4 linked regions of the Homo sapiens genome follow. The protein of the gene in region 1 purifies or fractionates together with the protein of each later gene. This does not show direct contact. Each region holds a gene or a part of one and is shown on either strand. Other genes may lie near its edges.

The links. The genes of interacting proteins can lie anywhere in the genome.
Region 2: the proteins of RRP8 (region 1) and URB1 purify together in Homo sapiens (co-immunoprecipitation; 3 studies listed by BioGRID and IntAct, with this or other methods). This does not show direct contact.
Region 3: the proteins of RRP8 (region 1) and REXO4 purify together in Homo sapiens (co-immunoprecipitation; 3 studies listed by BioGRID and IntAct, with this or other methods). This does not show direct contact.
Region 4: the proteins of RRP8 (region 1) and CCDC137 purify together in Homo sapiens (co-immunoprecipitation; 3 studies listed by BioGRID and IntAct, with this or other methods). This does not show direct contact.

Annotation. Positions count from the first base shown.
Region 1 is NC_000011.10:6,593,687-6,598,379, forward strand, and holds the end of RRP8 (ribosomal RNA-processing protein 8), read right to left. Parts: 3' UTR 1,386-4,693; downstream 1-1,385.
Region 2 is NC_000021.9:32,390,213-32,394,415, forward strand, and holds the start of URB1 (nucleolar pre-ribosomal-associated protein 1), read right to left. Parts: upstream 2,801-4,203; 5' UTR 2,699-2,800; coding exon 2,557-2,698; intron 1-2,556.
Region 3 is NC_000009.12:133,415,211-133,419,274, forward strand, and holds the start of REXO4 (RNA exonuclease 4), read right to left. Parts: upstream 2,801-4,064; 5' UTR 2,635-2,800; coding exon 2,410-2,634; exon of another isoform or gene 452-2,409; intron 1-451.
Region 4 is NC_000017.11:81,669,737-81,672,067, reverse strand, and holds part of CCDC137 (coiled-coil domain-containing protein 137), read right to left. Parts: intron 1,844-2,331; coding exon 1,615-1,843; intron 325-1,614; coding exon 242-324; intron 1-241.

The sequences.
Region 1 (4,693 bases):
CTTCTTTCTACTCTTTCAGTCTTCTAATACTTGTAATTAAGTCTCTGTATTAAAAGTCCTCTTCTTGAAATACTTAGTGTGGTTTCTGTTTTCCTGACTGGGTCCTGACTGATAACATGAATGAATATTAAAAACACAGTTGAGTGATTTTAAAAAGAAGACAAGATTTGTAGGCAATACTCCACAGAAATAAAGCACACACAAAAAAGGAAACCACATATAATAAGAATATCTGCATAAAAGAGAAAGTTAAATTAGAGTTTTTCAGTTATCTAAGATCTTTGGATAACATACCGAAACTGAGGACAAGAGGTGATAGGAACCAACACATTCCAAATAAAGGTACTAGATATATCCACATGAAGTTTATTCTAAGATAGTAAAGCTGATCCACAGACCACTACACTTTCTATTATATGTGAGATTAGAAATAAAAGATTCATTGATGGGAATCTTTAGGAATAGGGATAACTTCTCCCTGCAAGACAAAGGAGTAGTGCACTCCCTTCATTCTAAACTGAGTGAGGAGGGCTCCAATAGAACCATTTGTAGATATTTAGTGTTCCCATGTGAGGGAGAGGCATTACATTCATTCAGCATTATATTCTCTAGATAGAGACTTGGTAAGCTCAGAAATGTACAGACCCATCTCCATCTGGCCACCAGGGTGGAATGTGGCATGGAGGATTCTTGGGAGAACATAACCTGAACCACTTATGAGGATTTGGAGCCATGTGAATTATAGAGACTGGCACTTCTCAGATGTATAAGTAAGAGTCAGGCTGGCTGCGACAAGGCAGGGTGAGAAAAGCAAGCTGCTGGCTGGGCTGCACTTCCAGTTTGGCAGGACAAATATGCATGCATTTCCTGTGGGTTCCATGAAAGGTAACCAGTCTTGAGGGTTTGTTGGGACCATTCCCAGGAGAGCTGCGTACAAGGGTGAAGCACTTTAGCACGAGGAGGCTGTGGGTACATTGTCAGGGTCAGGGGCTGAAGAGCTGAAGGGCAGTGTGGGCTGTGCATCAAAAAGAGGCAACCAAAGTCAGTTAGTGCCCCAGTCCTCATGGAGAGCTCCAGAGAACCCCAAGAGCTCACAAAGGAGTCAACAGTTAAATGCCTGTCTGCACAGAACACACCAATGGTACCTTAATCACGTAAGCTGAGACTTTCTTCGTTTAATATGCCCTCCCCCATTCCAATCCTAGAAGAGACAGGAAGTAAAGAATGAGTGAAATAATGACCATGTTCTCCCAAACCACTGAGGTAGAGGAACAGCAGCTTTAAACTGGATAAGTTGCTGACAGGTTCCTGAGATGTGGGAAAGGGTGGGGATGAAAAGCATCATACATACATATGTATATATAATATTATATATTATACATATATATAATTGTTTTATTTATTTATTGAGACAGGATCTCAGTTATCCAGGCCGGAGTACAGTGGCACAATCATAGCTCACTACAGCCTGAAATTCCTGGGCTCAAGCAATCCTCCCACCTCAGCCTTCCTAGTAGCTGGGATCACAGATAAGAGCCACTGCACTTGGCCCAAAAACATATTTAAAATGTTAATACTTTAGATTGGTTTCAGTCATGTTATAGGGAATAATGGAACGTATTTATACCAGAGTATTAACAATGTAGAAGGACCCTTGAAACGAAGCCAAAAAGATAGGGGCTGTGGCAATTAAGGAGACTTCCAAGAAGTCTAATACTAAGTAGGGCATCCCTGCTTAATCAATAACACTTCATTTCGTGACCATGAGACAAGAAAACTACAGAGACCTCATCCCTAACATCCTTCAGCTCCAGAACCAATGCCAAATCACCTAACTCCAGGTTATATGACAAAAAAAAACATCTGTTTAGGACATTCTTTAGTGGGATTTGTTTTTCCGGTCACAGTCACAATGACGGATTTAAAAAAAAAAGAGTATCTCAACTTCCTATTGGGAGTACATGTTTTCCCCTGATTTTAAACTCATGGGACAAAAAGAAAGTGTTGACTGGCATCTGGCAAGATAATTAAATATCTGAAACACCCTGAAGGAAACAAAGAGGGTACTGTGGTCAAGAGTAAGGTGGACAGGATACCATAGAAGATATATCCAGTGTATATAATGATAACTGCTAAAACACCCTCAAAACTCACTAGCAGAATGTAATCAAGTTTATTTTCTTGTTCAAAGTCCAATATGGATGTTTTTGGTCAAGTAGCTATTATGCCCTAAATAGTAACTCAGGTATTCAGACTTCTTCTATGCTATGACTCCATCACCGTCAAAACATGTGCTTCAAGGTTACCTTGAAGAGGAAGGAGGAAGAGAATAATGGAAATGGCTCAGCCACCCTTTAACTGCCTTGGTCTAGTATTGAAACATCACTTCCACTCATTTTCCACTGTTGAGAACTACTCACATAGGCCTAGATGCATGGAGCTGGGAAATGCAGTTTACCTGTGTCCAGAAAGAGGACATTTGGGTGAGCATCTGGCCAGTTTCTTCCACAGAAGCAAAGGTAATAGTGGTATGAATTCAGGAAGATGAAAATGAGCTCACTGGGGAAAGAGTATTCAAGGAAGATGGAGCATGTGCAAAGACTCTCAGTAGAAACAGTTTGGAAAGCTTGAGGAATAAAAAGCAAGTCTGTGTGGCTGGAGTTTTGTGAAAGGGGAGGAGTGGGTTAAGATGCAGATGGTGATGGTGACGGAGGCCTGGGCAAGATCACACGGGGCCTGAAAAGTTTGTCTTTTGTTCTCGAGGCAGTGAGAATCCATTGAAGGATTTTAAGCAGAGAAGTGACATAAGCTGATTTACATTTTAAAAAGATCACATGGCTGTGTGGAAAATTAATTGCTTTAGGGACACGAGTAGAAGCAATTAGACCACCAGTAAGGCAGTTACTGCAGGAGTTGGGTATCCTAAAACCAGATGGCTGGTCAGAGAATTCACCTGGGAAGGAGGATGACCAGGGGATGAAAGGTTCTAATTACTGGTCTCTGTGAAAAGCTGTAGAGAGTTTTGTGCAGTTACATAAATGGTTGGGTTTGGAGCTGAGCGGTGTCTCTGCCAAGATCATGTTGTTTCTTTTAGAACTGTGTTCCCTTAGGACTGGACTATATTATGGGAACAGAAGCTGGAGCACACCAATAACTGCAGAAGCAGTAACTATTTATTTGGAGAACTCTCAAAGGGATGCTGAACAAGCATGAGGCACGGATAACCAAACCCAATTTTATTCTTGTCTCTTACCACCCTCCAAATTTTATTCACTGGGAGGTACTCTCCCTGCTATGGAGAAAAGCTGCAGCGAGGTTGTGATGTTCTTAATAGATAGTCCTGTGATCAGTTTAAGGAACAAACATAATCTCAATTAATTAGAATGTCTAATCCTGTGTAACAATAATCTGCACCTGTTGCAGTTTTAAATCCCTTTTTCCTCTCCCAGCTCTGCCCCAGCTAAGTCTAGGAGCCTGCACTGGGAAAGGGAGGAGTGATTGGTATGCTCTTCCCTCTGCTCGGCTCCTCTCTACCTAATCACTGCTGATTGCTCTGGGCCCAAGTGATGAGGAGAGGTAAACAGATAAATCATTTTGCCCTGACTGGGTATTTCTATGCACTGTGGGCCTGGAAGATATTTCCTCTCCCCTATTCTCACTCTCAAATGATAAACTGGCTTCCTGCTCCCCTGAAAAAAAATCAAAGCAATCAGAAATGAACTTCTGGGGCCCTATCAGGAACTCTGGAAGAGGGCTTTCATAATGGAGCAACCTCTTACCACTGCCATTTACCTCAAACAGGCCCTCCACATTACTCAGCAATCCTTACCCCACTGCATTCTGAGTTCTCTCTCATCTCAATAGCACTCGACAGCTAACAACCTGCCCATCCTCCCATAAAAAAAAAAAAAAAAAAAACACTGGCTGGGCACAGTGGCTCATGCCTGTAATCCCAGCACTTTGGGAGGCCGAGGCAGGCCGATCACTCGAGGTCAGGAGTTCGAGACCAGCCTGGCCAACATGGTGAAACCCCGTCACTACTAAAAATACAAAAATTAGCTGGGCGTGGTGGCATGTGCCTGTATTCCCAGCTACTCGGGAGTCTGAGGCAGGAGAAGTGCTTGAACCAGCAGGCAGAGGTTTCAGTGACCTGAGATCACGCCACCGCATTCCAGCCTGGGCCACAGAGCAAGACTCTGTCTTAAAAAAAAAAAAAAAAAAAAATTAACTCTCCTGGTTTTACTCCTACATCTCTGGGTGAACCTTCTCCTCTTCCATCACCTTCACTGCTTCATTTTCCTTTACCCATCCATGACATGCTCCTCAGTTCTATTCTGAGCCATTTTCTCTTCTCATTATCTTACCCTGAATATCTCATCTATTCTGACTTTAATTACCACCTCTAGGCTGCTGATTCCCAGACCCCCAGCACAGATTTCACGCATGTCCCACTTCCTAAAATCCAACACTTTGAATGGCATCACCAGCCTACCCACAGTTGAGCAACCTGGAACTTACTTCAGATTCCTCTCTTACCAACCTCAACATCCCACCAATTCTACCTAATGAAGTTCTCCTGTCTGCCTACTTCTTCCATCATGACTAGTCAACAGTGCCCTCATCTTGTGCCCTAGTACCTGGGTTTCTATAACACCCCTGTTCTCATCTATCCCACTCAACTGGACCCTGTCAT
Region 2 (4,203 bases), on another chromosome or scaffold:
AATGATGTAGCACCTGAATGTCATGAGGCTCTCTGTGCAAGACCATGAAATATAGATACTACATCTTTTTAACAATTAAACGTGCTCTTTCTTCTGCCAGTAAGGTTCCTGTCCCTGTCCCATCCTACAATCCTTTTGAAAAGCCACTTCCTCTGATGGCCAGTGATGATGAGCATTTTTTCATGTGTCTTTTGGCTGCATAAATGTCTTCTTTTGAGAAGTGTCTGTTCATATCCTTTGCCCACTTTTTGATGGGGTTTTTTTTTTTCTTGTAAATTTGTTTGAGTTCATTGTAGATTCTGGATATTAGCCCTTTGTCAGATGAGTAGATTGCAAAAATTTTCTCCCATTCTGTAGGTCGCCTGTTCACTCTGATGGTAGTTTCTTTTGCTGTGCACAAGCTCTTTAGTTTAATTAGATCCATCAGAGAAATGCAAATCAAAACCACAATGAGATACCATCTCACACCAATTAGAATGGCGATCATTAAAAAGTCAGGAAACAACAGGTGCTGGAGAGGATGTGGAGAAATGGGAACACTTTTACACTGTTGGTGGGACTGTAAACTAGTTCAACCATTGTGGAAGTCAGTGTGGCGATTCCTCAGGGATCTAGAACTAGAAATACCATTTGACCCAGTCATCCCATTACTGGGTATATACCCAAAGGATTATAAATCATACTGCTATCAAGACACATGCACACGTACGTTTACTGTGGCACTATTCACAATAGCAAAGACTTGGAACCAACCCAAATGTCCAACAATGATAGACTGGATTAAGACAATGTGGCACATATACACCATGGAATACTATGCAGCCATAAAAAACGATGAGTTCATGTCCTTTGTAGGGACATGGATGAAGCTGGAAACCATCATTCTCAGCAAACTATCGCAAGGACAAAAAACCAAACACCGCATGTTCTCACTCATAGGTGGGAACTGAACAATGAGAACACATGGACACAGGAAGGGGAACATCACACACCGGGGCCTGTTGTCGGGTCGGGGGGAGGGGGGAGGGACAGCATTAGGAGATATACCTAAGGTTAAATGACGAGTTAATGGGTGCAGGACACCAACATGGCACATGTATACATATGTAACAAAGGGGCACGTTGTGCACATGTACCCTAAAACTTAAAGTATGATTAAAAAAAAAAGAAAAGAAAAGCCACTTCCTCAGGGGAGCCTTCTTTGAGCTCCCAGATTAGATCCAAGGTCTGTTAAACACCCTCAGGCACCATGTACCTCTCCTTTGGAAAACTCGTGCTTGAAACTGTATGTATGTGATTTTACTGACCAATATCTGCCTGCCCCACTCGACTGTTTGTAAACCCCACAATGGCAGAGGCTTTTTGACATTTTTATTCATCACTTTATCTCTACCGTAGCAAATAATAGCCTCTAGTAATACTTAATGAATTCGGAAATAAATAACTCTATGCTAACTAAGTATCATCTTCCTAGCTGTGACTAGCAAGTACAGGTATAGGTATCAAAGTTTAAAAACAGGCCAGGTGTGGTGGCTCATACCTATACTCCCAGCCCTTTGAGAAGACAAGGTGGGAAGATTGCTTGAGACTGGGAGTTCGAGGGCAGCCTGGACAACATAGTGAGATTCCATCTCTACAAAAAGTAAAAAAAAAAAAAAAAACATAGCTGGGCATGGTGTTGTGCACCTACAATCTCAGCTACTTGGGAGGCTGAGGTGGGAGGACAGCTTAAGCCCAGAAGTTCAAGGCTGCAGTGAGCTATGATAGTGCCACTGCACTTCAGCCTGGGCAACAGAGCAAGACCCTGTCGTTTAAAAAAAAAAATGAGGACAAAAATTGGAAGTTGAAGATATTTTGGCCATTAATTTAATCGTTTATTTAACCTGGGAGAAAAACTGCCACTGTTTTATTTTAGAGCAATGCTTCCACATGGCAACACGTTCAATTGCGTTTTTCCCAAACCATGTTACTTTCCAAACGATTACAAGTAGTCGCGAAGGGTGGTCACACTTTACAAAAAGTGTAATTAAATTATAGAGTCGGCTACATCTCAGTCACTGGCCCATTCCTGGTCAACTGACAAGTAGCTGTGGTGGCTTCTAGTAGCTTGTTACAAGTCATCAAGTCAGTATGAGTGTTGGGGGATGGAAGCTATTGAAAACGGTGCTGACGGCCCAAGGAGTAGCAAACTGTCTCATGAACCGTCCTGAGCCGACTCAGTAAGGACTCAATAGAGAAGGACACTTCATTTACTTCCCTGACAACTGCAATAAAGAGGTTTTAGAGCTCGCTGAGGGATGCTGCCTGGGCAAGGGAAATAAATGTGTTGTAACATGAAACGGTCCCAATCAAGCAAGTCGGGGCCCTCTCGCTGTCGCCGACAGTCCAGAGCAAGGAAGTACACAGCAGTCCTGAACCTCAGTTTTCTGCAAACCAGAGGCTTGCCACTGAGCCTATGTGACCCGAAAGCTGCAGAAAGGAGAGGCTGTGCCCGGCACACGGAGGCCGCCTCGCCAGCCTGTGCTCCCGACCCTGCGCCTGCCGCCCCGGACTCACCTGGCCCGGGGCCCTGCGGGTCCTTCAGCTGAGCCTTGAACCGCACGCCCGTGAGCTCTTCTTTGCGGGCGCGCTTGGCTGCACCCGCGGAGGAAGCCGCGCCGTCCTGGCCGCCCGAGGCCTTCCTCTTGGGGACCCCCATGGCCGAGAGGGCGGAAGCGCGACGGAAACGACACACCTGAGGGGACCCGGCAGGAGCACTGGCACAGACAGCAGACACGCGCTTCAGGCCCACATGGCGCAGGAAGAGGCGGGGCTGGCGGAAGAGGCGGGGCTGGCGGAAGAGGCGGGGCTCGGGGAAAGGCCGGCGGAAGGGGCCGACCCGCGCGAGGCTGGGACCGGCGGAAGGGGCGTGGCCTGCAGAAGGGGCGGGGCGATAGGGATCCAGAGTCTTGGGGATCCAGAGTCTTGGGGCTCCATGTGAGTTTGCTGTACCGGTTGTCCCGGTCACGGCATGGGGCGAGCGGACACTCCACGACACCCCCCGCCCCCGGCTGCAGGGTTTGGGGTCCACCGGGGCGCATTTCTGATCCCAGTGGCTCTTCGGGTGCTCTTGGCCGGAAGAACTCCCAGACCTTTCACTCCTGGCCTGGCCGATCCACGAAGACTCGGGCCCCGGCGCGTCCAAGCAGCACAATGAGTAGTTCTTGACCCGAGGTCGCCCTGAAGGTGTCGCATGAAGAGCTTGCTTCACACACAACAGGATTCGATACTTTGCCAATTCAAGGCCCTGGTGGCTGGCCGGGAAGGTGGATTCGCCTTGGCTAGGTGCCAGGCAGGTCCGCCTGTGCGGGTGCCCCTGACTTCGACCCCTAGCTTATGTCACAGCCCGAACCAGATCGACTGGTCTGGTAGCAGCCTGTCACTCCAGACTGTCCTCCACCCCAGACTTCCGCAAACTGATGGGCTCTTTGCGCCGTGCAGGGTGGGAGGAGAAGACCAAACGAAGTAACGTCTGTAAAACCCCTTCCTGGACAGCGTAAGGCCTCCACATCTAAGTTCCTGTCATTAAAATGGAGACAGCAAAGCCGACCCTATCCAGTCCTTGGGACTGTTATGAACAGAAAATGATGCAATGTATGAAAAACTGCTTTGAGGAGAAAAACAACACAGTGTGTTTTTGGAAGATGTGATTGATTTGTAAACCGCATTAAATGCTCTGAAATAAAATGAAAGTAAAAATAAGTAAAAACAGGCTGGTACATATTTTAATACGACTTCATCGATACTTAGGTATGTGTCCAAATAAATCATGAACCAGCGCATTAGATAAGTAACTTGGTGATTACTGAAATTCTCCATCAGGTTGTCCTCTAGTCTAAGAAAATTGTGTTTCATATTCTGTAAGCAGATGTGTTTTGAACATCTGAGGATGTGGGCTTTTGTGGCCTGTTGGGGTCTCAGAGTTTCTAGTAGAAAAAGCACGTGTGTTGACGCTGAGCCTCTGTCCCGACAAGATGATTGTGCCTGTGGAGATGTCTATGTTGTAGGCAGGTCAGAGAGAGGGTGTCACCCCTAGCAGATATGAGCTAATGCAGCAATGTTAAGAGAGGGGAATATGCTCAAAAAGTCATCTGTAAAAGGCAACACTCATTAGTGAATACAGACTTAATTCTGACTGATTATCCACACTGGTCCTCTTCTTTG
Region 3 (4,064 bases), on another chromosome or scaffold:
GCTGTTTCTTTGCTTATCTTATTATAATGCATTTTGCACCTGCTCCTTCATGCATACAAAATGTCAAACTCATTCTACACCTTGGGTACCTGTTGAGTGGCTGGACACCACAGACCACTTCCCTTTTCAGCTTATCTAGAAAGAATTTTGGAGTTAACTTCCCTCACAGCTTGGGCCAACATCCTGCTACACAGAAATCGCTTTTTTTTTTTTTACAAGATTCCCTGGTTTGCTACTGCTGTGAAGATCTCAGGAAGGTGGGGGGTGTCATAAATGAAAAGAAAAGCTTCTGTCAAACTGGAGTGGCTGAAGAACTGCTAGCAGCCACACACCTTGGCTGTCACCCAAGCAGAGGCTCCTGTAGTCTTAGAGCCCAGCTTCCTCCCTGTGTTCAAATCCCCAGTGGGAGTGGGCGCCACCACAGTGCGATGATGAGGCGGGTGCTACTTACCTGTTCTGTGATAGGTAAAGAACTGAAGGGCTGACTTTCTTGGATGAATTAGAAAACACTCCAAAGTTTCCCTATAGCACACATCCCTTCCATTCACTTATTTTGCTTTTCTTTCTTGGGAGAAGGAAGAAGAGTTGGTGTTCAAGAAATCCCACAGAACCCTGGGGCTGCCCACGGGAATTTGACTGGTCCTGTGTGTTAAGACAGGAATGTCTGCACTGAGATACTGTGCAGAGTATTAGGAGGTTCAAGAAGCGCTCGGGGAGGCTGAGGTGGGAGGATTGCTTGAGGTCAGGAGTTGAAGACCAGCCTGGGCAACAAAGTGAAACCCCATCTGTATTAGTTCATTGTGCACTGCTATAAAGGAATACCTGTGTTTGGTAATTTATAAAGAAAAAACGTTTATGTAGCTCATGGTTTTGCAGGTTGTACAAGAAGCATGGTGCCAGCATCTGCTTCTGGTGAGGCCGAAGGAAGCTTCCCATCATGGTGTAAGGTGAAGGGGGAGCAGGTGTGTTGCGTGGTGAGAGAGCAAGCAAAAAAGGTGCTAGGCTCTTTTTAAACAACCAGCTCTCAAATGAACCAGCAGAGTGAGAACTTACTCGTTACTGAGGGGAGGGCACCAAGTCATTCATGAGGGATCTACCCCCATGACCCAATACCTCCTATGGGCCCCATCTCCACCACTGGGGATCACATTTCTTTTTTAAAAAAACTACTTTTTACTTTTATTTAGAGATGGAATCTCACCATGTTGCCCAGGCTGGACTTGAACTCCTGAGCTCAAGTGATCCTCCTGCCTGGGCCTCCCAAAGTGCTGGGATTACACGTGTGGGCTACTCGGGAGGCTGAGGCAGGAGAATCACTGGAGCCCAGGCAGCAGTGAGCTATGATCCTAACAGGAGGTAGCTCCAAGGGAGCTCCAAGGGATGTGGTAAGAATGTATGAGTGACGCACGTGGAAGAGTGTCTAGGAGAGAGCAGGCAACCTCTACAGAAGTGCAGGTCACTAGGGAGACAGCAGGTACAACACAGCCTTAAAAGCATGGACTCCAGAGTCAGCCACCTGGTTCCCAGCCGCAATCTTAGATGATCTATTTAAACTTTTCCAGCCTATTTCCTCATCTGTACAATAGCGATGATGGAAGTGTCCACCTCACAGTCTTATTGTGGGGATTGCAACACGCATGGCATAGAGCACATGGCAGAGTGCACATTTTTAGGAGCTCAATTAGTATTTACTTCAAGACCGTAAGTGTCGCTAGAACCCCATCACATGTCTGCTATCTGCTTTTCACTTCTACACAGGAATCTTCTTTCTCCCTGTCTTGCTACACAGACCAGTGTGTTCTTTCGTTGTTGTTGTTTGAGATGGAGTCTCGCTCTGTCGCCCAGGCTGGAGTGCAGTGGCGCGATTTCGGCTTACTACTGCCTCTGCCTCCCGGGTTCAAGCGATTCTTCTGCCTCAGGCTCCCCGAGTAGCTGCGACTACCGGCGCGCGCCATCACGCCCGGCTAATATTTTTTGTACTTTTTTAGTAGACACGGGGTTTCACCATGTTGGCCGGGCTGGTCTTGAACTCTTGACCTCAGGGGATCTGCCCGCCTCGGCCTCCCAAAGTGCTGGGATCACAGGCGTGAGGCCCCGCGCCCGGCCTGGTTTCGGGATTTTAAGCTAAATTTCTCTTTGTAAAATCCATTCTAGTTAGTTCATTATGCAAAAGGTACAAGGGTTTATCTTTGCTTTTTTGTACTTGAAATAATTCTTTCATCAATTTCTTTCAAGCAAACAAGTTCGAGACCTCCCTCAACAGGCCACCTTTCTTGTGAAAAGCTGTTTACAAGATTTCGATTCAAATCTGCCTTTACAGGTCTTTTGGGGCTACCCAAGTCTTTCCCTCCGTCGCGTTCTGCGGGAATGAGCTGCGCAGCGCTCCGCCCGGGCCCCCTCAAGCCTCACCTCTTGCAGCGCCTTCCAGTTTTGAGAAAAGTCTTCTGGTGCCTTTGGAGGTCGCACCACAGCACCGGGGCCGCTTGCTGGCTTCTTGCTTACTTCCCGCGCCTTGCTTTTCCAAAACCTTTTTTTCTTCTTGTTTTTCTTCCGAGTGAGCGTCTTGACAGGACCCGGCTTAGCCACGGGGCTGCTCGGGGCGCGCTTGGAGGCGGGGACCTTCGCCTTCCCCATCCTGCTGCCGTCCAGCGCCTGGGCCGGCGGCCACCCGAGACCCCGGCCTCCCCGGGCCCGGCGCCCTGGCAGCACAAGCGCCTGCCCAGGCCAGGCCGAAACACACCCACCGCAGGGACCCCGTCCAGGAAAAGACTCCGGAAGAGACCCCGCACGCGTTGCGCATACCTCAGCACGCACGCTCCAGTCCCCGGAAGCGCTCGTCTCTCCACAACCGGCTGGAAACCGGATCCCTGCCTCTGGTTCCGCGCAGCCTGGGCGGTTCACCCGCACGGGACTTGGGCCGCCGCCTTAGCCAGCGGCATCCGGGGTCATCGACCTCGAGTTTGACTGGGGCAAGCCGAGGACCTCCCCAAGATCCGGGATGGGGATGAGAGATGCGAACGCCGGAAGGGAACTGGGGGGCCGCTGTGTGTGTAGCACCTGGTAGGGCAGCTGAGCTGGGGGCACTGGGCGGTGGGGCTAGTGAGAGCCGGGCTAGGTCGCTCGCCTGCGTCCTGGACTCTCGAGCCTTTCCCGCCTTGGGCTGCTCCTTGCTCAGCCTCACAGCGGCTCATCTTCCACGTACAGTGGGGAAACTGAGGCCCAGGCACCGGGAGGAGTTCCTGCCAGTTCACTCTGTAGCAGGACGAGCCGCAGACAAGAACCCCTCAGACACCGAATTGTAGAAGGAAAGGGCTTTATTTAGTGGGGAGCATCGGCAGACTCACGTCTCCAAAAACCGAGCTCTCTGAGTGAGCAATTCCTGTCCCTTTTAAGGGCTTACAACCCTAAGGGGGTCTGTGTGAGAGGGTCGTGATCGATTGAGCAAGCAGGGGGTACGTGACTGGGGGCTGCATGCACCGGTAATCAGAACGCAACAGAACAGGACAGGGATTTTCACAATGCTTTTCCATACAATGTCTGAAATCTATAGATAACATAACCGGTTAGGTCAAGGATTGATCTTTAACCAGGCCCAGGGCGCGGCGCCGGGCTGTCTGCCTGTGGATTTTATTTCTGCCTTTTAGTTTTTACTTCTTTATTTGGAAGCAGAAATTGGGCATAAGACAATATGAGGGGTGGTCTCCTCCCTTACTTCTGCCGCCTGGGTTCAAGCGATTCTCCTGCCTCAGCCTCCTGAGTAGCTGGGACTATAGGTGCACGCCACCACTCTCTGCCAATTTTTGTATTTTTAGTAGACCTGGGGTTTCGCCACGTTGGCCAGGCTGTCTTGAACTCCTGACCTCCAGTGATCCATCCGCCTCGGCCTCCCAAAGCGCTGGGATTACAGGTGTGAGCCACCGTGCCCGGCCGGGAGTGGGTAGATTTGATGTGCGTGTGTAACAGGCAGAGGTTGATGGAGTAACAGGGAAGTGAGGCTCCTAGGATTTTGGTCTGAGCAATTGGGTGTGGCCATTTATCATCTCAATAAATGTCTGCGGGGAGCA
Region 4 (2,331 bases), on another chromosome or scaffold:
GCAGAATACAACTGAGGACTGCTGCCCACAGCCACTGCACCCCTGACACCCAGAGCCACCACCCGCCCACCTCCCTCCCATAGGGCTGGGACAGAACACCAACTCATCCAGTGGTCTAATGGCTGTGGACCCCAGGGGAAACCACAGGTGCCCAGTGCAGCCAGGGCTGGTGGGGAACAGAAGGCCTGCGCCCAGGCCCCACCCGGACCACTGCTGACACCATCGCTTTGGGAAGAGCTACCTCGGAGCAACTCCTGCTCCAGCCTGTCTGCCGCCTTTTCCTCCTTTTTCCGTCGGACTTTATCTAGTCGCCGCTTCTGGAACCTGGGGAAGAAAGCACATGTCACTCAGATTCCTAAATTCTCTTTCCACCCAGGGAGGAGGCAGAGGCCGCCCCACCCACAAGGGATCCCCTGTGGCAGAGCAGGGACCCAAGAACAGGTGGCTGCCTCCAAGTCCCCGCTCCCCTTACCACCCCAAAACCCACAGCTGCCCACCAAAGAAGGCTCTGACCCCAACAGGCCCCTCACAGGTCCCCCAGTGGTTCTCAGCTGGGGACAGCTACCTGCCAGGGAACATCTGACAATGTGTGCAGACACGTGGGCAAGGGCTACTGGCACCTTGTGCACGAAGGCTGGGAAGGCTGCCAAAGACCACCCAACAGAGACTCATCCAGCCCATCCGGTGCTGCTGTGTCTAAAGGGCCTAACAAGCATTGTATATCACGTCTCCCTCAATGTGAATCTGGAAGCTTCACCTTCAGCGACAGCTCTGGAGATCACCGTGGCGCCAGGCTGTATCTGGGCCACGTTCTCTGTGATGAACTTTCACTGGCTAAGGTAACTATAAGTAATACAACAATCCAGAAACAGGGAATCTACAGAGCTGAAAGCAACCTCTCAAACCTTCAAAGCTTTTTTTTTTTTTTCTTTTTTTTGAGATGGAGTCTCGCTCTGTCACCAGGCTGGAGTGCAGCGGCACGATCTCAGCTCACTGCAACCTCTGCCTCCCGGATTCAAGCGATTCCACTGCCTCAGGCTCCCAAGTATCTGGAATTACAGGCATGCACCACCACGCCCGGCTAATTTTTTTTTTTGTATTTTATTAGAGACAAGGTTTCACCGTGTTGGCTAGGATGGTCTCGATCTCCTGACCTCGTGATCCACCTGCCTCAGCCTCCCAAAGTGCTGGGATTACAGGCGTGAGCCACTGTACTCGGCCAAAGCTTTTAGAGAATTAGGAAGGTGTAGTCTCTTGGACGAGAGACATTCTGTTCTAATGGAAACAGAACCCCTGGGCACGTCACCCTCAGACCGACCCCCTCAGGGCTGATTCCCACAGGGCTAGGGCTTTCTGGTGCTTTTCCTGTGAAAGCAAGGACCAAGCGAGGTCTCCGCAGAGTTCCCAGGTTCCGCAGCCTCCTGGAGGCCACACCCTCACTGGCTCCCAGCTGGATGCTCCGACTCGCCAACTCCCAGGGCTCTGGCTTGGTCTCCCTGAATCCAGGCTGCCCCATGGCTATGAAACAGGGTACCTGCAGAGGGCCGTCATGGGAACCCAATGTCTTCCCTCCGGCTCCCAGGGCAGACCCCTCCCCCTCCCGCCTCCACTCACGCTTTTTTTGCTTTTTTCTGCTCAGACTTCTCCTTGGGAGCTGCCTGCACCTCTGGCTGCCGGATGGCCTGGTTCTTGCTGAGGAACAGCACATGCTGGGCCTCTTGCTGCATGCGGTGGATATAGGCCCCGTCAGACTCCCCCTTCCTCTGTTTGAACTTGGGGACTGCGATGTCGGGCTCCTCTCCCTTTGCTTCCTTCTCCAATGTCTTTCTGAAGGTCACCTGGGCTGAGGACAAAGGGAGGCCTCAGAGGAGGCAGGAGGCAGACAGTGGCAGGCAGGTGACCCATGCTCATTTCCCCTCCCAAAGCCACAGGAAGGGAAGACCAGGCTGGCTGGAAGCACCCCAACGACAGCAGCTGAAGAGGATGTAGAATGCCCGGCCCGGCATCCCCGGGGACGTGACCCCCCAGCCCAATGGCACCTGTCACAGATGTCCACTGCAGCACAGCTGAAAAAGGAAAGCAGAAACAACCTAATGTCCACCCCTAGGTGGCTGGTTGAATGAATTCTCCTCTGATCACCCACAGACTCCATTGCACAGCTGCCGAAAGAAGCCCAGTGGAGCTACACAGAGAAACGTGGGCAGACCTGCCGGGCGCGGTGGCTCATGCCTGTAATCCCAGCACTTTGGGAGGCCAAGATGGGCAGATCACAAGGTCAGGAGATTCAGACCATCCTGGCTAACACGGTGAAACCCTGTCTCTACTAAAAAC